Homo sapiens: one gene and its partners. The protein of the gene in region 5 purifies or fractionates together with the protein of the main gene of each other region. This does not show direct contact. Each region holds a gene or a part of one and is shown on either strand. Other genes may lie near its edges.

Evidence for each region.
Region 1: the proteins of DBR1 (region 5) and RBM34 purify together in Homo sapiens (affinity purification with mass spectrometry, with the first as the bait; one large-scale study listed by BioGRID). This does not show direct contact.
Region 2: the proteins of DBR1 (region 5) and TRA2A purify together in Homo sapiens (affinity purification with mass spectrometry, with the first as the bait; one large-scale study listed by BioGRID). This does not show direct contact.
Region 3: the proteins of DBR1 (region 5) and RIC1 purify together in Homo sapiens (affinity purification with mass spectrometry, with the first as the bait; one large-scale study listed by BioGRID). This does not show direct contact.
Region 4: the proteins of DBR1 (region 5) and MYH10 purify together in Homo sapiens (affinity purification with mass spectrometry, with the first as the bait; one large-scale study listed by BioGRID). This does not show direct contact.
Region 6: the proteins of DBR1 (region 5) and KIF2A purify together in Homo sapiens (affinity purification with mass spectrometry, with the first as the bait; one large-scale study listed by BioGRID). This does not show direct contact.
Region 7: the proteins of DBR1 (region 5) and LARP1 purify together in Homo sapiens (affinity purification with mass spectrometry, with the first as the bait; one large-scale study listed by BioGRID). This does not show direct contact.

What each region holds. Positions count from the first base shown.
Region 1 is NC_000001.11:235,150,764-235,155,221, forward strand, and holds part of RBM34 (RNA-binding protein 34), read right to left. Parts: intron 4,350-4,458; coding exon 4,118-4,349; intron 2,003-4,117; coding exon 1,943-2,002; intron 1-1,942.
Region 2 is NC_000007.14:23,503,962-23,508,621, reverse strand, and holds the end of TRA2A (transformer-2 protein homolog alpha), read left to right. Parts: intron 1-1,086; coding exon 1,087-1,202; intron 1,203-2,355; coding exon 2,356-2,484; intron 2,485-2,808; coding exon 2,809-2,876; intron 2,877-3,052; coding exon 3,053-3,063; 3' UTR 3,064-3,842; downstream 3,843-4,660. UniProt on the Homo sapiens protein: Sequence-specific RNA-binding protein which participates in the control of pre-mRNA splicing.
Region 3 is NC_000009.12:5,764,658-5,769,115, reverse strand, and holds part of RIC1 (guanine nucleotide exchange factor subunit RIC1), read right to left. Parts: intron 3,703-4,458; coding exon 3,544-3,702; intron 3,455-3,543; coding exon 3,318-3,454; intron 147-3,317; coding exon 1-146. UniProt on the Homo sapiens protein: The RIC1-RGP1 complex acts as a guanine nucleotide exchange factor (GEF), which activates RAB6A by exchanging bound GDP for free GTP, and may thereby be required for efficient fusion of endosome-derived vesicles with the Golgi compartment.
Region 4 is NC_000017.11:8,623,661-8,628,118, forward strand, and holds part of MYH10 (myosin-10), read right to left. Parts: intron 1-4,458. UniProt on the Homo sapiens protein: Cellular myosin that appears to play a role in cytokinesis, cell shape, and specialized functions such as secretion and capping. Involved with LARP6 in the stabilization of type I collagen mRNAs for CO1A1 and CO1A2.
Region 5 is NC_000003.12:138,167,741-138,172,198, forward strand, and holds part of DBR1 (lariat debranching enzyme), read right to left. Parts: intron 3,974-4,458; coding exon 3,893-3,973; intron 2,453-3,892; coding exon 2,367-2,452; intron 1-2,366. UniProt on the Homo sapiens protein: Cleaves the 2'-5' phosphodiester linkage at the branch point of excised lariat intron RNA and converts them into linear molecules that can be subsequently degraded, thereby facilitating ribonucleotide turnover.
Region 6 is NC_000005.10:62,354,266-62,358,723, forward strand, and holds part of KIF2A (kinesin-like protein KIF2A), read left to right. Parts: intron 1-893; coding exon 894-989; intron 990-3,425; coding exon 3,426-3,480; intron 3,481-3,871; coding exon 3,872-4,034; intron 4,035-4,458. UniProt on the Homo sapiens protein: Plus end-directed microtubule-dependent motor required for normal brain development. May regulate microtubule dynamics during axonal growth. Required for normal progression through mitosis. Required for normal congress of chromosomes at the metaphase plate.
Region 7 is NC_000005.10:154,792,666-154,797,123, reverse strand, and holds part of LARP1 (la-related protein 1), read right to left. Parts: coding exon 4,328-4,458; intron 3,530-4,327; coding exon 3,401-3,529; intron 3,325-3,400; coding exon 3,124-3,324; intron 3,025-3,123; coding exon 2,862-3,024; intron 1,950-2,861; coding exon 1,805-1,949; intron 1-1,804. UniProt on the Homo sapiens protein: RNA-binding protein that regulates the translation of specific target mRNA species downstream of the mTORC1 complex, in function of growth signals and nutrient availability.

The DNA of each region.
Region 1 (4,458 bases), on a different chromosome or scaffold from region 5:
GAGGAGGCAAACGACAATTTCAGTAGAGTGTACTAAGTACTGTAATGAGGGATGGGTGCTGTCAAATGCATAGCAGGGACACACTGGTAGCCTAGAGACTGGGGAGAATCAAGGTAGGCTCCCCAAAGGGGAGAAGGCAATAGCAGGCCCCGTGAGGGGTGTGTGTGTGGCGGCTGGGGGGATGGGGGGAAGGGCGTTTCATTAATGCAAGGCAGGGAAAGAGGTAAGGGTTCCGGGAAGAAGAGCTTCAGGAAGACTGAGTTCACAGTGTTTTGTTGGACAAATTAGAGGAAGACTGAAGGTAAGGAACTACAATAGGCCTCTGCGACTATTCTGACAGGAGGTAATGAGAACTTAGGTAGGACAAGGAAAAAAGAAAGGAATGACTCATATTAGGAAGAAATCACAGTTGAAAAACGGACAGGAGTGGCAAACACTAGCATGGGTGAGCCAATGAAGAGTCAAAGGCAACCACAAAACCTGCAGCCTGGGTGCCACTAAATACCACAGAAAAATCAGTAGGCAGCATAGGGTTGGGGTGAGAATGGATGGAAGTAAGCAGATATATTGAAATCAGGGTCTGGCAAGACACCCACACTAATGCATCAGCCAAAGGTCTAATACAGGGAAATGGAACTCAGAAGGGCAGACAAAAGATATGTGATAAGAGTGGGAAATAAATACCCTGACAGAAATTATGGGCACTGTCAAAGCTTTGGGTAACGTCTACTTCTATAGAAGTGGGCAGTTGTGCCTCCTCTAACATTTGGCAATTCCTGAAGATATTTTCCATTGTGAAAACTGAGGTGCAGGAGGTGCTACCAGCATCTAGTGGGTAAAGACCATGGATGTTACTAAACATCCTATAATACAAAGGGCAGCCTCCAACAACAAAGAATTATCCAGCCCAAAATGTCAACTGTATGGAGGTTGAGAAACTCTATTCCAGAGAATCACATGAGAAAGAGCAATTAGAAACATGAAAAAGGCTAAGTGCAGTGACTCACACCTGTAATCCCAGCACTTTGGGAGGCTGAGGCAGGCGAATCACCTGAGGTCACGAGTTTGAGACCAGTCTGGATAACATGGTGAAACCCTGTCCGGACTAAAAATACAAAAATTAGCCGGGCATGGTAGCGCACACCTGTAATCCCAGCTACTTGGGAGGCTGAGGCATGAGAATTGCTTGAACCCAGGAGGCGAAGGGTGCAGTGAGCTGAGATCGCACCACTGCACTCCAGCCTGGGTGAGACACAGCGAGACTCTGTCTCAAAAAAAAAAATAGAATAAACATTTCCTATATTCTAATATACATTAATTATGTAATAGTGCCCAAAAATGTACACTATGGTACGTCAACTAACTATGCCTATGCAGTTAAAAAAAAAAATCATGTATGGGAAAACCAAATATAAATGATACTTATTTCCTGCTCCAAAGAATGTGGCTATAACTGGTTCAGAGTGCTGAGCTGGTAAAATCCAACTCACTTCTATAAAGTTTTAATATTAAATTGACATAAATTCTTTATCTGTCTGTGCTCAGAGAACAAAGACTGTTTGCAGCAATCATACCCACCTCCCATACTAATGTGTATGATGGGACATAGGAAGAGAATGCCTAGGATTCCAGCAATGATAATCAGTATTAACTTTTCAGTCTATTCTGCTGACACAGTAAATAAGTCACCCATCCACCCTCCAAAGTACATTGCAGGCTTTCATAGCAAGAGTATCATTTTATTAAGTAAACTCAATACATTATTTAAAAAGTTCAAGAGTCAGCAGTAGATAGTAAGAGCAACTCTTTTCTTGGGTTAAATTTGAACCTATTGATTCAAAAGGTTAAAGTGCTTCACCATCTCACTAACAGCAATAAGTTCATCTGATTTAAATGCAATAAATTTTAATATTATGTAATTTTACGGGGGAATGAAACATACCAGAGAACGAAATCGTACAGATTCTATTTGTCCATACTCTTTAAAAAACGACTTCAGCTTCTAAAATTAAAAAAAAAAATACACATTAGCTGACCTTCAGAACATCAAATAAGTGCTACAAAAAGGAATTAAGAAAAATTGTCTGATAATCCTCTACTGCCAGGCTTTTTTTTTTTTTTTTGAGACAGAGTCTTGCACTTTCGCCCAGGCTGGAGTGCAGTGGTGTGATCTCAGCTCACTGCAACCTCCGCCCCCACGGCTTCAAGTGATTCTCATACCTCAGCCTCCCAAGTAGCTGGGATTACAGGCGCCCGCCACCATGCTCAGCTAATTTTCGTATTTTTAGTAGAGACGGGGTTTCGCCATGTTGGCCAGTCTGGTCTCAAACTCCTGACCTCAGGTGATGCAACCACATCAGCCTCTTCAAGTGCTGGGATTACAGGCATGAGCCACCGCACCCGGCCTACTGCCAGTTTTTAAGAACATTTCAGGAAAGTAGGTGACTATTCAGTTGGATGAACAAAAAAATTTTACTGAAACTTGTGAGACTCTGTCTCAAAAAAAAAAAAAGAAAACACAATTCAAGCTCCTATTAGTATCCATCGGATGTATGCTTTTCTTTCAATCTTTTATAACCTTTATCACATGTAAATTAAGGATAGACTTATAACTTCCATAGATTCTCTCATGTTTTCACATTGGTTTAAACCAGGAATAAACTTTTTTTTTTTTTTTTGAGACAGAGTCTCACTCACTGTCACCCAGGCTGGAGTGCGGTGGCACGATCTTGGCTTCTGCAACCTCCCCCTCCTGGGTTCAAGCAATTCTCCTGCCTTAGCCTTCAAAGTAGCTGGGATTACAGGCATGTGTCACCACACCCAGCTAATTTTTGGGACTTTTAGTAGAGAAGCGGTTTCACCATGTTGGCCAAGCTGGTCTCGAACTCCCGACCTCAGGGGATCCGCCCGCCTTGGCCTTCCAGAGTGCTGGGATTACAGGTGTGGGCCACCACGCCTGGCCTCAAAAAGGTTTTTCTACTGTTTTTAATCAAGTAGAGTTTAAACTGTCCTTCAAAATATGAGCAGGATACCGAGCTAAGGATTGCAACAGTTACTATCACATGAACATGCAGAAGCAAAGGGCAGGTTTTGCTTCAGTGATCGTCACACAACGGAAGAAACTCAGGACATCTTCATTCTTTAAACAACACATATTTACTATGCACAAGGCACCATTTCAGGTGTCAAGAGACAGAACGAGGCTGGGTGCGGTTGCTCATGCCTGTAATCCCAGCACTTTGGGAGGCCGAGGCGGACGGATCACAAGGTCAGGAAATCGAGACCATCCTGGCTAGCACAGTGAAACCCCGTCTCTACTAAAAATACAAAAAATTAGCTGGGCGTGGTGGCGGGCGCTTGTAGTCCCAGCTACTCAGGAGGCTGAGGCAGGAGAAGGGTGTGAACCCAGGAGGCGGAGCTTGCAGTGAACAGAGATCGCGCCACTGCACTCCAGCCTGGGCAACAGAGCGAGACTCTGTCTCAAAAAAAAAAAAAGAGAGAGAGAGACAGAATGATGAAAAAAGAGGATCAGGCCCAGTGGCTCATGCTTGAAGTCCCAGCACCTTGGGAGGCTAAGGAGGGCAGATCACTTAAGCCCAGGAGTTTGAGACCAGCCTGGGCAACATAGTCACAAAAAAAAAAACACAAAAATTAGCCAGGCACGGTGGCGTGCGCCTGTAGTCCCAGCTACTCAGGAGGCTGAGGCAGTAAGATCACTTGAGTCCAGGAGTTTGAGGCTGCAGTGAGCAATGATCATGCCACTACACTCCAGCCTAGGTGACAGTGAGAACCTGTCCTGAAAAAGAAAAGAAAAAGGAAAGACATCTTTAAACATATGGAGCTTACTTTCTAGTGGCATATAACAGGAGACAAGGCTGAAAGAAAGAAACCAGGCAGGAGGTCACTGCAATATTCAAATATAATCTGCAAAAGCCTGAATTGGCAGGGACTACAGGAATGAAAAGGAGGGGGTGGATACTGGAATCCATTCATATTAGGATGATTTATGTAATAATTTACAATGAAGTTATATCCATGACTTACTATTGAATGCTTATTCAACACAGGAAGAACAAAGTTATTAACTTCTCTGAACTTTTACCATATACAAACTCACCTTCTTATTACATGTAACAGGCAAATTCCCAACAAACACAGTTCTCTCATTCTTTAATCTCTCTTCTTCTTGGTTGATTTGAATTTTCTTTCTTTGACTGACAACTGTGTCTTCTGTGTCATCAAGTATTTTTCTATCTGCTACTTTAACACCAGGTTGAGAATTTTTCCTTTTCTGCCCTTGTTTCTGGTGAATTTCTTCTTCTAAATCAGCACTCGCTAGAGCGCTTTCCCTTTTTAAGGCAAAAAATAAAATAAGCAGTAAGAGTCATGCCAGTTAGGTCTAGTATTTGACAAAGCACAGCCCTACCCTCCCGACTAGAAATATTTCCCAATGTCTTC
Region 2 (4,660 bases), on a different chromosome or scaffold from region 5:
TTGGGAGGCTGAGGCAGGAGAATCACTTGAACCTGGGAGGCAGAGGCTGCAGTGAACCGAGGTCACGCCATTGCACTCCAGCCTGTGCAACAAGAGCGAAACTTGGTCTCATAAATAAATAATAAAATGCATTCCATTGAATGGAATACTGTTTAGACCCCTTCTCTACCAAGAATTTTTGTTTTAATTAGCCGAGCATGGTGGCACAAACCTGTGGTCCTAGCTACTTAGGAGACTAAGGCTGGAGGATTGCATAAGCCAAGAAGTTTGAGGCCACAGTGAACTATGATCCACTGCCAGCCTGGGCAATGGAGTGAGACCTCCTTTTTTTTTTTTTTTTTTTTTTAATGACCTTTAGTTTATGGGACACTCTTACGGAGAAATATTTGTGGATACATAAAAATTGTGTAGTTTTTATTAGTTTATTATACTTTTATTAGTTCAGTCTCAATAAAAGGTTGAAAGGCATTACGATAAATTTGTTCTTGTCTGTTTATATCATTTCTTCTTGGCTGCTCACTGAGTCTTAATCAGTGTACTAGACTGCAAACTAAAGAATAAGATTGGGGGCAGGTTATAAAAAGAACATGTATAAAGCTTAGCAAACCCTTTTTAATGTTCTGAAGTCAGTCTTTGTAAGTGAAATCGCTGGAGACTAGAAAGTATGAAATGGCAGTCTACCTGGGCAACCTACAAAAAATTTAGCTTGAAAAGACTTCAGTCTCCGCTCCCCTGTTGATCTCATGGAGTGGGGAATGGGAATTGAACCAGAACTGGAAAATTATTTAGGAAAGTTTGTTAACTACTCTTTGTTGATCTCATGGAGTGGGGAATGGGAATTGAACCAGAACTGGAAAATTATTTGGGAAAGTTTATTAACTACTCTTTCTGCTGAGTAAATTTAAATGTGTTCTGGACATTGTTGAGGTCTAGAATTGTCTATACAATGCCCTGTACAAGCTACATTGCTGTCATTTTCAAAATCAGGAGTTTATTTGGATTACATATACTTTGTGCTTAATTTTAAGTAATGATTACTTCAAGACTGGTGAATTATACGTGACTTTTTGTGCCTGTTCTTTATAGGCTATGGAAAGGGCAAATGGAATGGAGCTGGATGGTAGAAGAATTCGGGTGGATTATTCTATAACCAAGAGAGCGCACACACCAACACCAGGCATCTACATGGGCAGACCAACTCAGTAAGAGTTCAAGTTTCCTAAGCTAAACTATGAAATCCACCAGAAATATGTGCAAAATTTTGATTACTCAGAAACTTTTTTCCTATAATTAGAATTGATTCTGGCAAGGGGCAACATGGCAAAACCCTGCTTCTACTAAAAAAAAATAAAAAATCAGCCAGGTGTGGTGGCACATGCCTGTAATCCCAGCTGCTCGGGAGCTGAGGCACAGGAATCACTTGAACTTGGGAGGCAGAGGTTGCAGTGAGCCTGGGCAACAGAGTGAGACTCTTTCTCAAAAAAGAAAAAAAACATAAGTAGGGGTTTTGATAATGTTTTTAAATATACAACCCTCCTGGCTGGCTCACGATGTTCATTTGCCGGGCGCAGTGGCTTACACCTGTAATCCCAGCACTTTGGGAGGCCGAGGCGGGTGGATCACGAGATCACGAGATCGGGACCACGGTGAAACCCCGTCTCTACTAAAAATACAAAAAATTGGCTGGGCATGGTGGCAGGCACCTGTAGTCCCAGCTACTCAGGAGGCTGAGGCAGGAGAATGGCATGAACCCCGGAGGCAGGGCTTGCAGTGAGCCGAGATCGCACCACTGCACTCCAGCCTGGGCGACAGAGCAAGACTCCGTCTCAAAAAATAAAAATAAAATATACAACCAAAGGCAGTATTCACAGAGGTATTTCTTGGGAATAAAAGAAGGAATATAGTCATTCCTTGGTATTCTCTTTGGTGTCCAGAGTTACTTAAAAATTCTTGGTGTTTATTGCCTTTTAGTCACAGGGATACACCTTTTATTCATTTATTTATTTATTTACCAGTCTCATTTAGCAGTAGGAATGCATCTTAGCATTTTTATACTGCTGCTCAACACAGTGCTTCATCGTTTCAATTTGTTGAAAAGATTTTAATTTGGGCAGTGCATTAGTAGAAAAGCAGTTAATAGTTTTGAGAGTTTTGTGAAGCCCTTCTTGATTATGTATGTAGGGAATAAGGCAAACCAGAATACCATGGGAGTCAGTAAAATGAGATACGGAGGCAATTTCTCATGAAAGGGATGTTCTTCCTCACTTTTCTCTTTTTTAAGCCATTCAATTTGTATTAAAGTGTCCTGGAAAATAGTCATTCACACTAATGGAGAATTTTTACATTTTTCTGCAGTAGTGGTGGGGGTGGTGGAGGAGGCGGCGGCGGTGGAGGTGGAGGTGGTGGCAGACGTCGAGATTCTTACTATGATAGAGGATATGATCGTGGGTATGACAGATATGAAGACTATGATTACCGATACAGGTAATGTTTTAACTTGAGCTTTCTGTTCTAAATTAGATGATAGTAGTGTTACTTGGCACTTTTATGTTGGATACATATGAATAAAAACTTGATTTTTAAAATAGATCATATATGACGCCTTTGGGAGCAGAAGTTAGCAGTCTGTATATGTCAGTATTTTGTTGTGCTATATACTTTTCTGGTCTCATTGGCAGAAAGAGAACTTAATATTAAGTAGTTATCACCTTAGGTACATTATTATTTTGAATGATGAGGAATTTTTATTTTCATCTGCCTCAGTGGAGTGATTATATAGTATGCTAAGTAATCTTTCATTTCTTACAGAAGACGATCACCTTCTCCTTATTATAGTCGATATAGATCACGATCAAGATCTCGTTCCTACAGCCCAAGTATGTGAACTTTACTTTTGTAGCATAAAAAACCTCATTTCTAATTAATGGCTTACTTTAGAATATTAGAGTATAAGGTGGAAGGTGGCAGTTAATAGTTGGAAAAATATGAGGCAAATTAAACTATAATTGTTAACTTTTTTTTTTTTTTTTTTTTTTTGCTTTTTCTCTTTTAGGACGCTATTGATAACGGAATGGTTGCAATTAAGGACATTTTTTTTCCTCTTTTTTTTTTTTTTTTTTTTAATTCTGAGATTTCCCCAAGCTGTGGATTCTTCCTACTCCTTAAGAAAAAAACTTTGGTTTATTTAGCATCTACACTTTTGTCAGTTGTGTTGCTGTTTTCCACCCATTTTATTATACTCTTAAAAGATGTAATTGTTGTCATTTTGAACAGTTAAACATCTTGAGTATAAAAAGAACCCCAATGTTATGTTATGCTTTGTAAATTTTTTTTTTTGCTTTTACCTAGATAAACTTCTAGCTAATCAAATAAGGAAAGAAACTGTCTTTTTAAAGCTTCTTTTGTGTTAGATACTGTATTAGAGATCTGCATTTATCATGAGTTCCTTTTTTTTTTTAACTTTATTTTTGGGAAAGTAACACATGAAGTAGTTCAGTCATGTCAGGTTTGTCTGGGGTGGAATGGAACAGTCAGGTAGTTGAAAGTTTTTTTTTAGAGATGAAAAGCTTGTGAACTCCTGTAAAACATGCTGTATTTGAAATACATCTGTTAAAACTTAAAAACTAAAGTGTGATTTTTTTTGTTGTTGTTAAGTTTATTGAAGTTTATTCCCTTAATCAGTGAAGGACAACCCTTATTTATTACCTAGAGCAGTTGTATAATTCGCTGTTAGAAATTTTGGTATTGGGACAGTGGATAAGCAGGTTATCACATAGCATAGAATTCTTAAAAGATACATGTGGGGAAAAGTAGTCTCAAATAAAAGCTAATTTCTTTGAAAATGGGATTGTCTCTTTATTGTGGTACCATGGAGAAATATGATTGAGGAACTGGTCCTTCCTTTTCCCTCACATCCCCCCAGTGTGTATTTATATGAAAGTTTACCCATCCTGAGTTTTAACTTCCCAATATTTCTCATTTTTAAAAATATTTTTTCTTACACTAGAATGTTATTCCTTGTCTTTTCTTTGGTTCTTTTAAAACCCTTGTTTTTCTTCTCTTTTGGGGGAGACCGAATTGTAAATATTGAGAATATTCAGTACCAGCACCATGCTGAAGGAAAGATAGGTAGCTAATACCTTTTTTTTTTTGAGACGGAGTCTTGCTCTGTCACCCAGGCTGGAGTGCAGTGGCGCGATCTCGGCTCACTGCAAGCTCCGCCTCCCGGGTTCACGCCATTCTCCTGCCTCAGCTTCCCGAGTAGCTGGGACTACAGGCGCCCACCACCACGCCCGGCTAATTTTTTGTGTATTTAGTAGAGACGGGGTTTCACGGTGTTAGCCAGGATGGTCTCGATCTCCTGACCTTGTGATCCACATGCCTTGGCCTCCCAGAGTGCTGGGATTACAGACGTGAGCCACTGCACCCGGCCTACTTTTTTTTTTTTTTTTTTTTTTTGGAGACAGAGTCTCGCTCTGTTGCCCAGGCTGGAGTGCAGTGGCGTGATCTCAGTTCACTGCAAGCTCCACCTCTCTGGTTGACGCCATTCTCCTGCCTCAGCCTCCCAAGTAGCTGGGACTACAGGCACCCACCACCACGCCCGGGTAATTTTTTGTATTTTTAGTAGAGGGTTTTCACCATGTTAGCCAGGATGGTCTCG
Region 3 (4,458 bases), on a different chromosome or scaffold from region 5:
ATAGCCAACTAATTAGTTCAAAGCCCAGCTGGGCTGCAAAGCAGCCAAGGTCCTTTAACCTCACATCTTCTAAGAGGCGCCGAGCATGTCTCCAGAGCATCATGTCAATATACATGTTCTCAGCACAGTCACTGTCTTTGCTCCATCTGTAAGTGGAAACACAAGAAAGCTACAGAATAATCTTTACTGGAGGATTTCACATCCTTATTACGCAGAGGTACTGATAAAGCTGACAAGGAGATAAGAGATCCAAGATCTAATTCTGATTGACAATGAAGATAAAGTATCAACGCTTCTCCTCCGTGTTACACCACAACCCTCGGAACACAGAAGGCTCTTAAGACACATTTGTAGAATGAATACAGGGAACAGGAAAAGGGGGACAGAAGAAGTCAGACCAGGAAGCAGGTGATGGGTGGCTGACAGAAAGAAAGGCAGCAAACCTCTATGCTATATTTGAAAAGCCCAATGAAAAGAGGGAAGGAGAGCACATCAAAGAAACTAAGGATAGAGAGGCAAAGTGAAATTAAATTTCTCAGTGTGAGTCATGCAGACATATGAAAAGAATACCAACTTTTTTTTTCTTAAATGACAAGGTTTCACAATGTCACCCAGTCTGGAGTGCAGTGGTGTGATCATAGCTCACTGCAACCTCAAACTCCTGGGCTCAAGCTATCTTCCCCACCTCAGCCTCCCAAGTAGCTGGGACTACAGGTACTTGCCACCATGCCTAGCCAATGTATTTTTATTTTTGCAAGGATGGGATCTTGCTGTGTTGCCCAGACTCATCTTGAACTCCTGGCCTCAAGCAATCCTCCCACCTTGGCCTCCCAAAGTGCTGGAATTACAGGTGTTAGCCACCTTGCCAGTCCTGAAACCAATTTTTAAAAATTACAACTTGCCTAAGTATAGTCTCTCATTCCTGACTTACATGAGCTAATGTGGGGGAACTGGTTTGGTAACTGGATAATGTGGTGCTTTAAGTGAGAGGCAGTTTAGTGGTGGGGTAAAGAGCCTAGTCTCTGGTGCAGTACTGCCTGGATTCGGATCTTGGCTCTGCCACTCATTTGTTGTGTGAACATAACTAAGTTTATTTTCCTAGGCCTCTGTTTCTTCACCTATACAATGTGGATAACCCTCATAGAGTTGTTTAAAATAGGACCTATGTATGTAAATGCTTAGAATAAGGCCTGGCATGTAGTAAGCACTTGTTAAAAAACAGTAAAACAGGCTGGGCATGGTGGCTCATGCCTGTAATCCCAGCACTTTGGGAGGCAGAGGCAGGCGGATCACCTGAGGTCGGGAGTTTGAGACTAGCCTGACCAATACGGAGAAACCCCGTCTCTACTAAAAATACAAAATGAGCCAGGCGTGGTGGTGCATGCCTGTAATCCCAGCTACTTGGGAGGCTGAGGCAGAAGAATCACTTGAACCTGGGAGGCGGAGATTGCGATGAGCCGAGATCAAGCCATTGCACTCCAGCCTGGGCAACAAGAGCGAAACTCCATCTCAAAAAACAAAAAAACCCAGTAAAACATGACAATAACAAACGTTCAATAAGCTCTCACTATGTGCCCAAGCACGGTAGTAAGAATATAAACATATGTTCATGTTGTCCTGGGGAAAAAAAAAAAAAGAGAATATGAACAATATAAAACAAAGGATTAGGTAAGGAAAAAAATGAGACAACAACAGAAGAACATAGGAAGGAATACACAGGCCTCACAAACCAGAGGAAATTCTCATGATTTTATAATGTTAGTGTGAATTCATAGTCATCTCTCAGAAGACAATATCCCATCTATGGGTGATAGCAGTTTCAGTCTCCAGCATACAATTCATTTGGCTCCCCGACTGTGTAATAACTTCTCTAATCAATAGGTCACAAGAGTGTCAAATGCATTAGCACTAAATTTATATCAAAAAGTATAATTAGAAGGAAAGGTAAAATTACGACTTTAAGAAGGCTTTTGGATTACCTACAGATTTATCTATCTTCCTTTTGGTCCTCTATCATCAGAGGTAATTTAAAAGTTTGTTGCATTTTCAAATCAAAACCACAACGCAATGCCACCTTACTCCTGCAAGAATGACCATAATCAAAAAACAGTAGATGTTGGCATGGATGTGGCCATCAGGGAACACTTCTACACTGCCGGTGGGAATGTAAACTAGTACAGCTGCTATGGAAAACAGGGTGGAGATTCCCTCAATAACCAAAAGTAGAACTACCATTTGATCCAGCAATCTCACTACTGGGGTTCTACCCAGAGGAAAAGAAGTCATTCAAAAAAGATACTTGCACACACGTTTATAGCAGCACAGTTCACAACTGCAAAATCGTGGAACCAACCCAAATGCCCATCAGTCAACGAGTGGATAAAGAAACTTGTATATACGTATATATGATGGAATACTACTCAGCCATAAAAAGGAATGAATTAACAGCATTTGCAGTGACCTGATGAGATTGGAGAGTATTATTCTAAGTGAAGTAACTCAGGAATGGAAAACCAAATGTAGTATGTTCTCACTGATATGTGGGAGCTAAACCATGAGGACGCAAAGGCATAAGAATGATACAATGGACTTTGGGGACTTGGGGGAAAGGCTGGGAGGGGGTGAGGGATAAAAGACAACAAATATGGTGCAGTGTATACTGCTTGGGTGATGGGTGCACCAAAATCTCACAAATCACCACTAAATAACTTATTAATGTAACCAAATACCACCTGGACCCCAGTAACTTATGGGAAAAAAAAGTTTGTAGCATTTGGCCAGGTAGGGTGGCTCACGCTTGTAATCCCGGCCCTTTGGGAAGCAGAGGCAGGTGGATCCTTGAGGCCAGGAGTTCGAGACTAGCCTGGGCAACATGTTGAAACCCCGTCTCTACTAAAAATATGAAAATTAGCCGAGTGTGGTGGCATATGCCTGTAATCCCAGCTACTTGGGTGGCTGAGGCAGGATAATCGCTTGAACCTGTAAGGCGGAGGTTGCAGTGAGCTGAGATGGTGCCACTGCATTCCAGCCTGGGTGACAGAGTGAGACTCTGTCTTAAACAAGTTTGTTACATTCAGAACAGGTACATGAAGATCTATTCCAGAAAAAGGGGCAGAAACTATTCAGAGGGTGCTGAAGTGAACTTGGGAGGAAGGAAAAAGGGAAGCCTTCTGTGTGGCCTCTGCTTTTTGGGAATGGAAAAAGAAACTGCAATTGGATTAAATAGTTGTTTCCATTAAGACCTAATTTTGTAAATGTCTTGAAATGCAATGTGTCATGAATGCCCAAAAAGCAGTAATGGCTCTTTATTATTTTACCTTTTTCCAGAGGGACCAGATGGCATACTTAGTGTTTTCTGTAAACTGAATTTACTGGCAGGAACATTTTCAGCTGACTGGGATAAACTGATGCTTCGATTCCTGAAGAACTCAAATCCACCACTTGAACTGGGTTCCTAGGATTACACACCATATGCAGTACCATTAGAGAAAGATGCTACGTGGGTGTATGGCCTAGAGAAGATGTGTAACTTTTGCAACTAACCTGAGCTGTGGGTGTGGATGGAGGTGTCTCAGATTCTCCAGAGCCAATGGCTTTAAGAAATCGAATCATGTGTCGACAAAGGTCCCACTTGCCTTGTTCTAGTGCTGTGTTGAATAGAAGGGTAGCATGTTGCCTACTTACTGCAGGGACTTCCATATTCTACAAAAAACAACCAGGACAGCATTCTTTTTATACTACACAATTTGGGAAGATATGAGCAATTCTTTATCTCGTTTTCTAAACTCAAAGAATGTAGCCACACCACCACAGGGGTTAGTTTAATAATAAGATTAAAAAGTACCATACAAGGAAAAGCGAGGCAAGTACTCTTCTGGTGTATGTAAACTATAATTTATTAAACTCCTACTACATGCCAGATAGCATACATATACTTTAAGTCATTTCATTTATTTCTCCCAGTGACTCTGCAGATAGGCATATCATTTGTATTTTACAAGTGAGGAAACTGAGTTAAGTAAATTGTTGAAGATCAGCAGAAAAGGAAGAAAAAAAAGGGAGGTTTGCCTGACTCCAAAATAGGTCAGGTCTGTCTCCTGTTGCAGAGTTTTCTGAGGATGTGACTAGAATCTTTGCTTTGGGCAATAGCAAGTAGTAAAGTTCTGCTGCACATTCAGAATCCTCCATTTTTCTTTCACAAATTTAACCTGCCTATCTTGGTCTTTATGGAAAGGTGCCTAATAGACAACTGTAATTGTAATTATTATCTGCCAATCCATAGCAACTTAGGAATTCTGTTGCAGAAAAAAATTACATTGTCAGGGAGATACAGTGAAGTTGCAGGGAGTGACCCGGAACCAAAAAACAGCTGCATTTATTTTGATTCTATTTTTAAAACCCTATGTCTTTTTCTTTAGGGTTAGCCATGGAATCATACTTCAAGGCCACCTGGCCTCT
Region 4 (4,458 bases), on a different chromosome or scaffold from region 5:
GGTACCAGAATTAATATGACCACAAGGAAACAGCTACAAAAACACATGATTGTCAGAAGAGTAAAGAATCTAAAGAATCTAAAACATGCCTCTCATTCTACCCTCAGATAACAGACTTAAAGTTCTTCTTATGAATAACCCAAATCAGTCTCCCTCTAGCTTTTCTATGGCCCCATGAGGTCTTAATGTGATCAACTGGGACCACAAAAGACAAGCATAACTTGGCTTCACACGGCAGCCTTTTGAATATGTCATGGTAGCAGTTCAGGCCTCTATTCCCATCCTGCAGCTCCTCCACCCCTCATTCACCAAGACTCCTTCCCCTGCCGGATCTCTCGCCTAAACAGACTCCAACATGCTGCTTGTCTTCCCTCTAAAGTGTGTGGCCCAGAAGCAAACATCATAGCCCAGATATGGTCTGACCAGTGCAGAAGAAAAAGGAACCATCAACTATCTTAGCCACATTGAGGAAAGTACTGGTTCTGTGACATTTACAATTAATGTATCTCAAGACCTAGTTGTTTTATTTAGCACCCATTTACCATTGGCTCACAAAGGGCTAGCAGAGGAAGCTCCATCACTTTGTGGCTAAGCTATGTCCCCTCCTCTACTTGTGCACTGGCTTTCTGGACCAAATGGCAGGATTTTACATCCATCATCTTTCTAATGTGACTCATCATGATTGCCTGACAGGATCTTTTTGGGATTTGATACCAACTTAAACATTTTTGCTGCTACTCCAAATTCCAGGTTATTATAAATTTCATAGGCATGGCTTCCATCACTTCATTCAAACCAACAGAAGAAGCCAACTGAGTACCTACTCTTGCTCTATCAAATCCCCACTTCTCCCCTCTGTTCACTCCACTCCCCTAGCCAAAAATGCTAGAGGTTCTTTGTAGGCAAGAGGAAATCATAAAGTAGTCTAAGGTTGTTAAGAGGTTCTTGAGTCCATCAGCTAATCTCAACTTCAACAAAATCCCTGAAATGGTATAAAAATATTATGCACTTAGCGTGTGTATATATGTGCTATAACGTTCTCTAGATTCTAAAGGGCTCTATCTGTATCCTAAAAGATTAATCACTGATAGTGGTTACACATTCAACCAACTTCTGGGCACAATGGCCCATAACTGTTATCTCAGCAACTTGAGGGGCTAAGGTGGGAGGAGTGCTTGAAGCCAAATATTTGAGACCAGCCTGGGCAACATAGCAAGATCCCGCCTCTACAGAAAAATTTAAAAATTAGCCAGGCGTGTTGGTGCATATCTAGCCCTTTAACTACTACTAATAATTTACTAGAACCAGCTGGGTGCAGTAGCTCATGCCTATAATCCTAGCACTTTGGGAGGCCGAGATGGGTGGATCACCTGAGGTCAGAAGTTCGAGACCAGCCTGGCCAACATGGTGAAACCCCATCTCCACCAAAAATAACAAAAAATTAGCCAGGCGTGGTGGTGGGTGCCTGTAATCCCAGCCACTCAGGAGGCTGAGGCAGGAGAATTGCTTGAACCTGAGAGGCGGAGGTTGCAGTGAGCTGAGATCGTGCCACTGCACTCCAGGCTGGGTGACAGAGCAAGACTCCGTCTCAAAAACAAACAAAAATAAATTTAAAAAAATAATTTACTAGAACCAAATAGCTAAGATTCTTCAGAAATTACTTGTTGCAATGTAATGCGTTACAAACACTCATCTTCTATAGTAGCGGCTGTCAAATTCAGGCATGCATTTGCAGCACCTAGAGGGTTTATTAAAATACAGATTGCTGGGCTCTATCCCAGAGTCCCTGATTCAGTAGGTATAGGGTAGAGCCTGAGAACTATTTTTTTTTTTTTTGAGACAGAGTTTCACCCTGTTGCCCAGGCTGGAGTGCAGTGGACGCAATCTCAGCTCACTGCAACCTCTGCCTCCAGGGTTCAAGTGATTCTCTTGCCTCAGCCTCCCAAGTAGCTGGGATTACAGGCAGGCCTGCACCATGACCCGCTAATTTTTGTATTTTTAATAGAGATGGGGTTTCACCATGTTGGTCAGGCTGGTCTTGAACTCCTCACCTCAGGTGATCCACCTGCCTCGGCCTCCCAAAGTGCTGGGATTACAAGCGTGAGCCACCGCGTCCAGCCTGAGCCTCAGAATTTGCATTTCTAACAAGTTCCCAGATGCTGCTGCCACTGCTGGTCCTGGGACACATTTGACAACCATTGCTCCAAAGTTCTGTGGTTGCCATGGTGCGCCACTGCTACCAGCAGGTATGTTAGAGTAGAAAAAGAGGTTGAAAACCAAATTCTAGACTAATTCATAACAATTTAAATAACATGTTGATGTCTTAAAGGTTATAGACTTGGATAAAACAAAAACCGCAAAATAAGATGAAACAAAAAATCACACAACATGTGATTAATGTTATTAAAACTTCTATACAAATAAAATTGCTAACACATTTTATACCTAAACTTGCATTAGTCTTCTAAGACATCCTCTTTGGAGAGGGCAATACAGAAAACATTCATAGATACATGTACATTCTGCATAACAGTTTTAAAAGCCTCTAGGGACTGGTCTAATAACACTATTAACAAGTTGTCTCTTTCCAACTTAAACGTTGCACACTGGTAAAAAGAAAGGAGGCCAGGTGGGGTGGCTCACGCCTGTAATCCCAGCGCTTTGGGAGGGCGAGGCAGGTAGATTGCTCGAGTCCAGGTGTTCAAGACCAGCCTGGGCAACATAGCGAAACCCCGTCTCTACAAAAAATACAAAAAATTAGCTGGGCTTGGTGTCACAGGCCTGCAGTCCCAGTTCTTCAGGAGGATGAGGCAGGAAGATCACTTGAGCCCAGGAGGCAGAGGTTGTAGTGAGCTGAAATCACACCACTGCACTCCAGCCTCGGCAACAGAATGAGACTCTGTCTCAAAATAATAATAAATAATAATAATAATAATAATAATAATAATAAGTAAAATAAAAAATTTAAAAAAAAAGAAGAAAGGAGGCATGGCTTCAAGGTGGGAAACATCACAGGTAAATTTGAGAACAAATAATAGGATACACACTCCACCTTTCAGAAGGGTAGAATCTATTAAAAGAAAATATTCAACTATAACAAAATATGACAAGTTTCTCTTACTATTCTTATCAGGTGTAAACTGCATATCCTACAGAGCACTTAGGAAACTGTCTTGCTGTCAGTAGACACGCACACACTTCTTAAATTTTACACTGGACATGTAATTAGATGCTTAAATTTAGCAGGTGACTATAAATTAGAATAATTTAACAAATAACTTCTAGAACAGGTCTAGAAGCAGTAGATTATATATCTTAAAATTATTTTATCAAATTGGGACATCTTACATATTATCAGTACTTTTTCTAGATGGGGAAATGCTTGTAATTTAGTATTTTAAAAAACCCAGTAGAACACAAAAGTGTAATTACACAGCATGTTCCCAATTTTGTGGGGAAAACTACATACACGTGTGTATTTTTTTTTTAAACGGAACAAATATTCATTGGGTCTTTACTGGGTAGTAGGATTACCAATGACTTTCACCTTTTCAGTCTCTTCTACAACTAAACACTATGAGGAGAGTCATCTGTTCCACGCTGTATCTTGAGCATTTTGTCTAGTCCCTGGTATATAACAGGGGATCTGTACCTATTGATCAATATTTACGTGAATGGTCCCAACCCTCATAGTGAAATTCAACTTCTCCACAACCAAAAAGCTATTATTCCTTCAACTCCTGACCCAAATGCCATCCTTTCAGAAGTTCTTTTCAGGTCAATGTGGCAATTTAATCCTTTTCCTTCTCCTAACATTTTGTACTGTTCTCCTGACTTTCTTCTTACCCTACCCTGCGTTGTACCAGAGGGCTTTGCAGCTGTTAAGTGTTCATATTATTGTTTACCTGATAGAGTTCATGAGACCATTGGAGATATTTTGTTCAGTTTAATTCTTCACTTGTAATTGTCAAATACATTTATTTCACTCCATAATACATTGGTACCCAATCTGGATAATACTGGTGTTTAACAGTGTACCACTCACCAGTGATTTGCTTTGCAGGAAGGACAACACTATGATTTTTAAAACAGCAGATACCATTGTCATATATCACTAATTATGGCCAGGCACTATTCTAAGCAGTTTACATACATCAACTCTTAATCCTCACAACAGCCCTATGAGGTAGGCACTATTAATATCTCCATTTTACAGATGAGGAATCTGAGGTACAGAGAAAGCCAATAACCAGCCCAAGGGCACACAGCTAACAAGTAGCAGAGCTGGGATTAAACTCAGAGTTCAGCTCCAGAGTACACACTACAATGATGGAAGGTGACATGGAGGAAATTTTGAAGGGTGTGTAGTGTACAATGCTATATACTACCTTTCTACTAAATAAAAACCCAATCAATTACGGCTTAAAAAGTATAGGCTTAACCAATGAATCATCTGGC
Region 5 (4,458 bases):
TTCGAAACGAGCCTCACCAACATGGTGAAACCCCATCTCTACTAAAAATACAAAAATTTAGCTGGACGTTGTGGCATCTGTCTGTAATCCCAGCTACTAGGGAGACTGAGGCAGGAGAATCGCTTGAACCCAGGAGGTGGAGGTTGCAATAAGCCGAGATCATGCAATTGCACTCCAGCCTGGGCCACAAGAGTGAAACTCCATCTCAAAAAGAAAAAAAAGAAAAAAGAAATTACTGTTTTGAAGATCCAGAGACACTAGATTTCACGAGACCTCTAACATGACTGATTCAGTAAACCCAAAGATTTACCAGGAAAAAAAAAATTCTAATAGGCTCACATAGTATACACTAAAAAACTGTGTTTACTACATAAATTAGTATTTCATTAAACAACTTAAGGAAACAAAATATACTCCAGACTTTACTTATCCCCAGAACCTTCAAGTAATCTGAAACGAATACTTGAAAAATGAAATTAAAACAACTTAAATACCGGCTGGGCACAGTGGCTCACGCCTGTAATCCCAGCACTTTAGGAGGCCGAGGTGGGTGGATCGCCTGAAGGTCAGGAGTTCGAGACCAGCCTGGCCAACATGGTGAAACCCCATCTTTATTTAAAATACAAAAAATTAGCCGGGCGTGGTGGTGGGCGCCTGTAATCCCAGCTACTCAGGAGGCTGAGGCAGGAGAATCGCTTGAACCCAGGAGGCAGAGGTTGCAGTGAGCCAAGATCGCACTGTTGCACTCCAGCTTGGGCAACAGAAGTGAAACTTTGTCTCAAAAAAAAAAAAAAAAACTTAAATAACTGCTCAAGACAATACAAAATATTAGATATTAGATAGATATGACTAACCACTGAATAACTGGTATGGCCAACAGATGCAACAAAAATTCAAACTAGGGTAATGACTCTAAACTAGAGAAGTCATGGCTGGCTGGGCATGGTGGCTCATGCCTGTAATCCCAGCACTTTCGGAGGCCAAGGCAGAAGGATCGCTTGAGTTCAAGAGTTTGAGACCAGCCTGGGCAACATGGCGAAACTCTGTCTCTAAAAAATATGAAAAAAATTAGCTGGGCGAGGTGATGCATGCCTATAGTCCAAGCTATTCGGGAGGCTGAAGTGGGAGGATCACCCAAGCCTGGCAGATTGAGGCTGCAGTGAGTCAAGCCATGATCATACTACTGCACTCCAGCCTGGGTGACAGAGTGAGACCTTGTCTCAAAAAAAAAAAAGAAGAAAACTCATGGTTGGGAAATGGCATCTAAGTTGGGTCTTAAAGGACTGGTAGGATTTAGATAGGTGAAAGAGAAAATCTATTTAAGGGAACTGTATGCACAGGGCATAAAAGAAACACTTGCAAGAATTGTTAGACTCCTGCAGAGGCTCTAGAGACAGTGTGATGGGCATGAGTGCAGTCAGGCAGGCTCTACCACTAAACTTTGGGAAGTCCTGGGCAGGTTACTTACCTGTCTGAGCCTTGGCTTCTCATCCTTAAAGGGATGAAGTTAAGAGTTACATCTATTTCATAGGGTTTGAGTGGAGATTATATGAAATACCAAGTGTGAAGTCTGTTTAGCCCAGTGTCAGCCATGTAATGGGTTCTCAAACAACCTAGTTTCACCTACTCTGCAATTAAGCAGTGTTTCCATACCACCTTCACAATTTTCCCATTTCCTCTATCATCTTTACTATTACTTATTTTCTATTTAATACCATTACTTAATTACTATTACATAAAATAAAATGTTTATTTCAATATTTTCTTTAAAATATCACTTTAACATTTTATTTTAAATATCACTTTAATAGGTATTCTTTAGCCTTAACCTAAGTAATATTTGAAATCATGAATTAAATCTTTCATTCTTACTAAAATAAACTCGTAATTATTGAAGTAAAAAAAATTTTGCCGGGCACAGTGGCTCACACCTATAATCCCAGCACTTTGGGAGGCCAAGGCAGGCGGATCACCTGAGGTCAGGAATTTGAGACCAGCCTGGCAAACATGGTGAAACCCCATCCCTACTACAAATACAAAAAATTAGGCAGGTGTGGTGGTGTGCGCCCATAGTTCCAGCTACTCAGAAGGTTGAGGCACAAGACTTGCTTGAACCCAGGAGGCGGAGGTTGCAGTGAGCCGAGATCGCGCCACTGCACTTCAGCCTGGGTGACATAGTGAGACTCTGTCTCAAAAAAAGAAAAAAAAAAGGTTCATCTGTGAACCTCCTAAAAACTCAAGATCCACATTTTAAAAATACAGAATTGCTCTTCTTGAAAGTAGTATACCAATATGACCAAAATACATTTTGGCACAGAATTACTTTAAAATGTTTTCAAGTCTGCTGTAATGCGCTTTTTACGTACCTGTTTTAATTTATAGACTTCAATATTTCTCACATGATATATACTCCTGATTGTAGATGAATTATAAGGGGGGCACTCAAAATGACCTTAGATTGAAGCAGAAAAATAAGCTATATTTAATTTCCTTAAATACTGCAAATACAAAGACATATACACAGGTCTCCAAAATATCATGTACACCTTCAATATATACGATTTTAAAAAGTTATCTAGGGAAATTTTTTAAAAAGATGGTGGACTGCAGTCTCCTTCCTTTGCAGGCTCAAATAAGGGTGTATCTGCTTTCTAAGGTCCCACACATGGTTGCTGGCACACTTCAGTTACTTTCTAACTGTTGACTAGAGACTAGTTCCTTATGCTCCCAATATTAATAAAATAACAAATTATTGTTGTTTTAAGCCGAAAAAGAAATATGTGTATTATATGCATAAATGATATCCCTGAGATAAAATAGAAAAACCTGATAAACAGCTTCCCAAAAGTGGTTCCAATTTGTACCCACACCTGCCACAGAGAAGACAGCCTATTTTGTACCTCCATTCCAACAGTTTAGAATAAGAAAGAGCCAAGTGGCAGGGAACAGACTTGTAACAGTTACATTCAGGATGTAAGTTTTAGCTGTCAATGTAATTCATGAAATTTGTGAAATCGATGTGAATCCAAGCTATTCCTTTAACTTTGAAATCAAAGTATAATTCATTCAGACACAATGAAATTAATATGCAGTTGTGATATACTTATATAATGGAATACTATTCACAAATGAACAGATTAGATTACATGTATCAACACAGACTTCAAAGCATGTTAAACAAAGAAGCAAGTTTGAGAAAGATACAAGCAATACGATACATTTATATGAAGCTTAAAACAAGTACATTGTTTAAAGTTCTTACATATGTGGTAATGATGTAAAATAATCAAGTAAATTATAATCACCAAATTCAACACAGTGACTGCCTGGCAAAGACAGGGAGGGAAGAAAAGAAGGGAACGGGATTGAGGACAGATAAACAATGAACTTTAATTGTATCTATACTGTTTTATTTCTTAAAAATAAAAATAAAAAAATAGCAAAATACAGGCCGGGCGTGGTAGCTTACGCCTGTAATCCCAGCACTTTGGGAGGCAGAGGTGGGTGGGATCACTTGAGGTCAGGTATTCGAGACTAGCCTGACCAACATGGTGAAACCCCGTCTCTACTAAAAATACAAAAAAATTAGCCGGGCGTGGTGGTGGGCGCCTGTAATCCCAGCTACTCAGGAGGCTGAGGCAGGAGAATGGCTTGAACCTGGGAGGTGGAGGTTGTAGTGAGCCGAGATCGCACCACTGCACTCCATCATGGACACCAAGAACGAAACTCTGTCTCAAAAAAAAAAAAAAAAAAAAAAAAAGCAAAATACTAAGACTTGATAAAACTATATCGAGGATACAAAGATATATGAAAGAGTCAAAGTACATATCATGCTTAACTTACTCTGGGGCATGCAAGTTCTAAAGTTTAAAAATAATTCTCAAAACAATACCTTTTCGATAGTCATGAGATTTAAAGATACCAGAGATTCCACCGATCCTTACACCTCGGTATTTTACCACACCAGCCAAACCTAAACAATACAGTTAAATAAAATTACTGTAGGCAAAAGGAATCTCTACACCGACTGAATAAACCATTCCATTTAGATGGAATTCCACACAGTTCTAAAATTATTTGAAAATTAAGCACCATGATGAGGTTATGCTTTTTACATAATAATATGCCAACAGTGTATTAGGGATATATTATAACAGTATATAAAGGTAAGGTCTGGAATTAGATGAGCCAAAACACTAAGTAGATTCTGGAAGGGACAAATGAGATAGGGTACTGAAAGTGAAACAGACATAATTTGGTACCTAACTGAATACACGGGTGAGGTAGTGGGAGGTGGAAAATGTCCTATGATGGATTTACATGTATAAACCTGAAAATCAACAGGTATAAGGTATAAAGAACCTACAGCTTCTAGTTTCATTTCTGATTGATCATCTTCTGACAATTTCACTTCTTCACAATATTGTAATATAGGATGAATACATCAAAAGATGATCA
Region 6 (4,458 bases), on a different chromosome or scaffold from region 5:
TCATAATACTTACACATCTCTCTGTGATCTCTTAATTCTCACTTCACAGTCTGCTTCTCAGTTGACATAGGTGGTATTATTTCCTAGAAGAAGGTTAATTGAAAGTAAGTTTCAGTAACAGTTTGTAATTTAGTTGCATTCAAAACAAATCTGAATATGATGTATAAAAAAATGTGACTTCTTAGAATGATTAATAATTTATTGTTCAAGGCTAGGAAAGACTGTTGACTATTGCTATTTGTATCTTAATCTGAATTTCTGTTTTGAAGCCAAATAAATTGTAGTTGGCATTCAAAAATTTGAATTTTAAAGTTTTTTTAAAATGATCTTGGCTTCTGATTCCTTTAAGTTCTATGTTCTGTTGATTTGGGGCAGTTTTGTCATTACTTAGTATTTTTTAGAAGGTCAGCAAAAATAGAAAATGAAGACAAATGAATCTGTATTTATACTTTGCTGAAACACTGGATTAAATTAGAAGATGAATCTGATTAAATGAATTTTCCTAGAATTTCAGCTTTTCTAGAGTTATTTGCCAGTGGTAACATGAGCATTATTTCTCTGTTGCTGCATTTTATAGGATAATTAAGGTATATGTATAACAGATGGATTTTTGAAATAGGTGAAGGGTAACTTCAATGAAGAGTCCTTAATTTGGAGTTAACAGAATGCATACCGACTAAGAGAATTGTGTTTGTAAAACACAATTTTACAAACACAAAGTGGTTCAGAGCTTATTATGAAACCACAACTGTGAAACTATATAATATCGTCAGTTTAAGTTTAGGCTTGGTTATGACAAATGGCACAATTTAATTTTAATTTTCAAACCAAATATAAATGTAACAAATACATTATTATATTTATAATGGTGAATTCTCTCTGTCTTCTAATAGGACGTTGATGCTACAAACCCAAATTATGAAATTATGTGTATGATCAGAGACTTTAGAGGAAGTTTGGATTATAGACCATTAACAACAGCAGATCCTGTAAGATTCTTTGTAAACCATTATTCTGGAACTTTTTATGCTTCAAATAAAAACGTGTTTGACACTTGCTAAATTCATATTGTGTTCAGCTATGTAGTTTTTCCTTTCCTTGTGGGTGCTCATTCCCCATATTTTAAGAAGAAAATCAAGAAATTATCCACATTAATGCTTATTTTCCATAATTTGGTATATGAGATATGCTCCCTATAGAGATGTCCTTCTCGAAGCAAAACCTCCCTGTCTTTGGGAGGGCAAAGCAACACTTAAAGGAGTGATAGCAGAAGACTCACTTTCCTTTCTGACTGTGAGTTATACTTTGATCTCAGTTCCAAGCTTATCTTTGTCTTGGGCTGTAGATCCCACCATCATTTCTAATTTACTATTGGTAATTTGTTAGTTTTAAATGTTATTCTGGCTTTTAACAATAAGTGATGGTTGTTGAGGGCTGCAGTGGACCAGAAATCTAGAACTGGAAAAAATCCTCTGCTGTTATTACTCAACTCCTTTGCTGTTGATGAATGAGAATTCATTGGACAGGGAGTGCCTTTTTTTTTTTTTTTTTGAGATGGAGTCTTGCTCCATCGCCCAGGCTAGAGTGCAATGGTGTGATCTCCGCCTCCCAGTTCAAGCGATTCTCCTGTCTCAGCTTCCCAAGTAGCTGGGACTACAGGCGCCTGCCACCACGCCCGGCTAATTTTTGTATTTTTAGTAGAAACGGGGTTCACCTTTTTGGTCAGGCTGGTCTCGAACTCCTGACCTCAGGTGATCCACCCGCCTCGGTCTCCCAAAGTGGGAGGCCTGTAATCATGCCTGGGATTATAGGCGTGAGCCACCACGCCCAGCCGGGAATGCTTTTATAACTAATTTGTACTTATAAAAATAATCCATCTGACATAGCATATACAGAATGTGTTAGTTACAAAAAAGACATTTGTGTTAGATAGATGTATTATATAGAATTGAATAGAATTGTTGATAATACTTGTATCCCACATATTTTAGGCCTTGCTATTCCTTCATGTGTTTCACTTACTGCATTAGAGCTCACCCTTTAGGACAGGAATTGGCAAACATTTTCTGCAAGGGTCTTTGGCTTTGGAGCTATATGGTCTTTGTCACAACTACTGAACTCTGTCATTGTATTGTAAAAGCAGCCATAGACAATACATAAATGATGGGTATGACATTTGTTTCAATCAATGTGTGTCAGTAAAATTTTGCAGAAGCAGGTAGTAGCTAAATTAGACCCACAGGCCATACTGTGCTAATCCTTGCTTTATGTTAATTATTATTAAAATGAGGCATGTATTGGGAACAAAATTTTTATAAAAAATACTTATGCATAAGAATTGGCATATTTATAAAATAGTTCAAATTATTTGGCTCAGTAATCGTCTGAGAATCCTGTTTCTTGCCATAGTTATCTTTGCTAGCAACTTTCCCTATGATCAACCTATGAAAATATGTCACTTAGTAGAATAGAAATGTTGACTTTTGTTGTGTATAGCACATCTTGAAGTGGATAATACAGCTTTTTTTTTTTTTTTTTGGAGACACAGTCTTCTCTGTTGCCCAGGCTGAGGTGGAGTGGCAGGATCTCGGCTCACTACAACCTCCACCTCCAGGGTTCAGGCAATTCTCGTGCCTCAGCCACCTGAGTAGCTGGAATTACAGGCATGCACCACCATGCCCAGCTAGTTTTTATATTTTTAGTAGTGATGGAGTTTTACCATGTTGGCCAGGCTGGTCTTGAACTCCTGACCTCAAGTGATCCACCCACCTTAGCCTCCCAAAGTGCTGGGATTACCCACCATGCCTGGCATCACAACTTCTTTTTTTTTTTGGTCCAGAGATAAAGTCTCACTGTCACCCAGGCTGGTGGGCAGAGGCATAATCTCGGCCCGCTGCAACCTCCACCTCCCAGGTTCAAGTGATTCTCCCACATCAGCCTCCCGAGTAGCTGGGACTACAGGCATGCACCACCACTCCCGGCTAATTTTTATATTTTTAGTAGAAATGGGGTTTCTCCATGTTGGCCAGGCTAGTCTCAAACTCCTGACCTCAGGTGATCTGCCCACCTTAGCCTCCCAAAGTGCTGGGATTATAGGAATGAGCCATCATGCCCGGCCTCCTCACAGCTTCTTAATGTGAACTTAATGCTACTAACAATAGTAGTACCCTCTACAGAATTATTTCCTAAAGTGATGGTTTTCCAAATAACAAAATAAGCAAGTTTCCATTACACTCAGAATTTTAGAAGTAATTATATCTGACAACCATTAAAATTTGTGCAAAGCTAATTTGTTTTTTAAGCTTACCTATCATTTATGCTATGTATAAATTTCTAAAACCCCTGGAGGAAATATTACATAATTTACGTTTTAGTGTTTTACATGACACTAATAATCACTGAAATAAAATACTTTTTATTTCTAGATTGATGAACATAGGATATGTGTGTGTGTAAGAAAACGACCACTCAATAAAAAAGGTATGGCACTTAATGAGCTCTAATAAAAGATTGATTTTATCTTATTTGTAATGTATTTTTATAATAGCAAATCAAATTGGTTTGGAAAAAATGTAAATCATTTCCTTTGATTTGTATGTAACCATTATGCAGATTTCTATGGCTAAACTTGTCAGTTTGTTATTGCTCTGAATCATTGCCATTCCGAGTCTTGCTTCACAGAAATCTTGATTTTGTTTTTACTTTGCTGTTGAAATATTTTGTCTTAGTGAGTTGCATTTTTATGGGATATTATCTTTATATGTACAGAACTTACTACTTGTATCTTAGTTCTTACTACTTAAAATAATTTTGTACATGAACTCAAATGCTGTGAAAATTATTGGGCATTGATTTTCATTTATTCTTTTAGAAACTCAAATGAAAGATCTTGATGTAATCACAATTCCTAGTAAAGATGTTGTGATGGTACATGAACCAAAACAAAAAGTAGATTTAACAAGGTACCTAGAAAACCAAACATTTCGTTTTGATTATGCCTTTGATGACTCAGCTCCTAATGAAATGGTTTACAGGTAGGTAAATTCATTTTAAATCAGAATTTTGTTCTTATGCCATGTGGTCATCAGCACCTTGAAATTTACATTGATTGTGGGATATTTCTTAAGAGGTGCAATATGCTGTTTTATTCTGAGTTTAAACAAAGAGAATGTAATAAATGCTGTAATGAATATTAACACTTGTTCTCTGTAATGCTCCCCAAAATCATAGTTTCCATTACTATTTGCTAATTAGCTTATTACACATATATATACATATATATACATATCACACAAACCATGTATATGGATAAGAAATTTCGGGAAAATGTTAACATTACCTCTAGGAATAGGATATGATAAGAAGACTTTTAATTTTTACCTTTTAATCTCTGTACTAATAAAGAAACTTGAAATGTTTGTTTGAGGCATGGTCTTGCTCTGTTGCCCAGGCTGGAGT
Region 7 (4,458 bases), on a different chromosome or scaffold from region 5:
ACCCCTATAACTCAGACTGGTATCTAAATACCATTTCCCAAAAGAAAGGAACTAGAATTCCTTTTAAAAGTGGCCAATTCCAGATCTGGGGCAGGAAATGTATAGGGTCCCACTGACCAAAGGTGGGACAATTTGATCCAATCCATTAACTGCAATGGACCAAAATAAATACGTTTGAGCCCATAAGCTTATAATAACAAATGATACGAAAACAAACCACCAAATCTCACTGGTCACCTATGAAACCTATTAGAGATCAACTCATAATTATGCAAACTGGCTAACAAAGGGAGGAAGATCAAACATTAATCTGCCCTTCCTGAACAAACTATACCTCTTGGTAACTGAACAGTTGATGAGGCAAAGTTACTTCTTGAAGAGGTATTCCACCTAATAAATGAAGACCGACTGACAGAATTAGTATATTGTCATTTTGCAATCCTAACGAACACTGCTGGCAGCTTATAGCACAAGAGAGACAATCAAATGAAATGTTATGTGCCACCTGAGAGAAAATACATCATTATGATAAAGTATTCTTGACAAGGAGGGGAAAAAACTTCAAAACCTGAATCTGATCAGGCCTCTAGATCACAATTTACAAAAAACTTGGAGTACAGATGAACATGTTAAAATGACATCCCTGTGCCCTGTGGAAAATCCTACAGGATGTACAACTTAGTCTATTCAAATAATAAACGGCAAAGAAAAAGAAAAATAGAGGCAAGAGGAGACTTAATAAGACAATACACAGGTCTTGTTAGTTTTTTGTAGAGACAGGGTCCTGCTATGTTACCCAGGCTAATCTTGAACTCCTGGGCTCACATGACCCTCCCCTTGGCCTCCCAAAGTGCAGGGATTATAGGTGTGAGCCACTGCACCCAGCCTATAGGTATTATTTGGATTCTGATTCTCACAAACTATATATATATATAAAATATATATATAATATATAAATACATAAAATATATATATAATATATAAATATATAAAATATATATAATATATATACTATATATAAATATATAAAATATATATATAATATATATACTATATATAAATATATAATATATAAATATATAATATATATAAAAATATATATAATATATAAATATATAATATATATAAAAATATATAATATATAAATATATAATATGTATAAAAATATATATAATATATAAATATATAATATATAAATATAAATATATAATAAATATATAATATATAAATATATATAAATGTATATTTTATATATAAATGTATATAAAATATATATAAATATATATAAAATATATATATAAATATATATATGGCGCCAATTGGGATGAATCTGAACTAAATATTTGATGATATTAAGGAACTGTTAATATGTTAAACTGTTAATTTAGGTATGATAATGATACTGTGGCTATTTTCTTTTAACAAGTCTATCTTTTAGAAATCTATACTGAAATATTTGTGAACAAAATGCTAGGTTTTCTAGGATTTTCTTCAATGTAGTATGTGAGAATAAACAGATGAGGGTACAGATGGAATAAGATTAGCCATAAACTGATACCTGCCGAAGCTGATGATGGGCTCATTATACTACTCTACTTTTGTTAAGTGTCTGACATTTTCCATAATGAGCAAGAGAGGGAGAGAAAGGAAGGAAGGAGGGAGAGGAGGAGACTAGCCAAGCCTTGAGACTTCAGCAGAAGTCATCAGATGATGACTCTTCCAGGGCTTTCTGCCTTGGCCCAAACTCCAGCTCCCTAAGGACCTTTCTTTCCCCTGCATCCCAGCTCCAGGGAGGAAGACATACCGCAAAGATGAGTGAAATGTCAGTGGTAAGGGCCTGCACTCGGTGGAAGGAAGCAATAAGGGTGATGGGTAGGAAACCATCAGCATCCATTTTCCTTCGCAGGAAGAAGTCTCGCTCTAAATTGTCCACGCTGAAGTAGTATTCACTAAGTGGAGGGAAGAAGTAGTTATCACCGAGGGATTGGTGCATCAGTTTTATGAGTATGCCTTCCTTGTTCTGCTACACACCCCAGCAATCTCACACAGCCTCTGACCTACCCCATCCTTATCCTATATACCAACAGTGTTGAGGGCTGAAAAGAAATGATGTGATCCCTTCATGACACCCTACCTTGCTTGGGTCAAATCACTCCCTCTGCCCTAAGCCCCTCGACATGCCTGTCAAACTCCTCATCCTCCTTTAAATTCCAGTCCAAATATTGTTGGTCACTTTCTCTTCTGCTCCTAAAACACTTATAAACACTCTATTGCAACCATTTATTTTCTTGTATGACTTCCTTACTGGACTGAGAGACAATATATCAGAGTGGTTAAGAACAAAGGTTCTATAATAGGACAGAAAAGGATTTAAATCTGTGCTTTGTTACTTACTAGCTGTGAGATTCTGTGCAAATTACTGGGCCGGTTTGCTTGTCTATAAACTGGGGCTAAAAGACTCAGCTCATAGGAATTCAACAGATAAGAACTGCAGGACTAAGATAATGCCTCTACAACAATAAACACTGAGCCTGGCCGATACTAAGGATTCAATAAATGTTAGTATTCTGTCAATGTTGTCATTACAAATGGAAGAACAGAAGGGGGTAGATTCTAAATATTTTCCTTCCTTTTTGTAATGGTATAGTTTCTAACTTTCTTAAGGTAAATGTTGTACCACTTCTGTAATAAACAATGAGAATGTGGTATCACTTCTTTAATAAACAATGAGAAAAGCTATCTTTTCAGCCTGAGGCTGAAACTGCTGCTAAGCACCAGAAGGGCCTGCCCAGCTATGACACTCTAGCAACCCCTAACCTCTCACTCATTTCTCCAGGGTAAGAAGGCTTCCGCACACTCACATCTGGCGCTTGATGTAGTCTTTGAGCAGTTCCTGATCCACACTGTAAAGCTCGGTGCTGCTGACATTGTCAAAGTAGTAGGTGATGTTGTTCATGTACTTGGGCGTACGAGGCCCCTCCACACCATCAAACTTTCGGTAGCCAAACTGGTAGTCAAAATGGGCTATGGGGGAAACGGGTGCCATGAGGGAGAGGAGATTCCTGCCCACCACCCCTGCTGCACACCCTTGGACATCCCGGAGCCCAAAGGGGCCTCACGTACTTCGAGTGCCACCCCGGCCGCGTCCCCGGCCGCGACCACGCCCCCGTCCACGGCCACGGAAGGAAGCCCGCGCCCCACCAGCCCCATCACTCTTCACACTCGATGTCTCATCCTGGTCGTGCCAGGCAGGCTCCGGTTTGATCTCTGGTTGCCAGGCTGGGGTGGGGGGGGCCACGGGCACGTAGGTGGCAGACTCAGACCCTATGGGGAGAGGGGTACCAGGTCAGGCCTGAGGGTGTCTCCCAAGTCCAGGCCCTCCATAGTGGGTAGTGCATACCTTTGATCTCTCCGCGATTGGCAGGTATGTGTCTAGGCTCCGGTGGGCGAGTGGGGCGTGAAGCCAGTTTCTCTCTGGGCACTTCAGGCTTCATGTCTATTTGTAATGGAACCCACTTGTGTTTGTTTCCTGGGAGACAGCATGGGTACATGAGAAAGGCTTGAGGGAGAGGCCACTCCTAGCCAGCTCTACCCAACTCCTCTTCTTCTGCCCTGGACTTGGGCCCAAATCACAATCTGGTTACCTTGGGCAGATCCCTTTCCCACACATTAGCCCTCTTTTTCATCTCTAAAATAAGCTGGTCAGTGGCCGTCAGTGTGTTAGAGACTCCTCGTTAACTCCCAAGATCAGTGTCTCCATGGCCACAGAATCCCCTTCTGGAGTCAGACACATGGCAGCCCAGGATGAAGACCATGCTTTCCAGAGTCCCTATAGACAGGTGCCAAAACACTGCCTACGAGAGCTAAGCTGAAGTAACCAACTCCAGGTTGAGTCCCTAAAAGGAAAGGGGCCACCCTTCCCTCTTCCTTTCCTCCTAGCTAGAAGAAGAAGGAAATAGGAAGCCATCAGTGATGATATGAAGAACCGGTGTACCACAGCAAGCTGAAGGGATTCAGGAGTTGCCATACCAGGCCTGGTGTATTTACACCAAGCTGTTACATCAAAGAAAGAAAGTTTTATCTTGTTTAAACCATGGTTACTCTAGATCAGCATTAGAGAAGCCAAAATTTCAGCAGGTTTTTTGAAAGGAGGGACTGATTAATGACAGATGGTTGAAGACTGCTATCTCACCAGCCTACATCCATCAGTTTCCCCATTGACTTTTCAGAGGTGGCACCTAAAGCTCCTCCAGCAGTCCCCTGGAGTCCTGACATTTCACAGTTCTACCCTGCCACCTTCTCCCAAGTCCTGCTCCCAGTCACTCACCTTTCTTCTTCTGCCCGCCTCGCTGGCAATCCTCATCTCCATTCTTTTCCTCCCCTGATTCATCTGATTTGGTTTTTGGACTCTCCTTACTATCACTCCCTTCTCCTTTCTCCTGTTCCTTCATGTCCTTC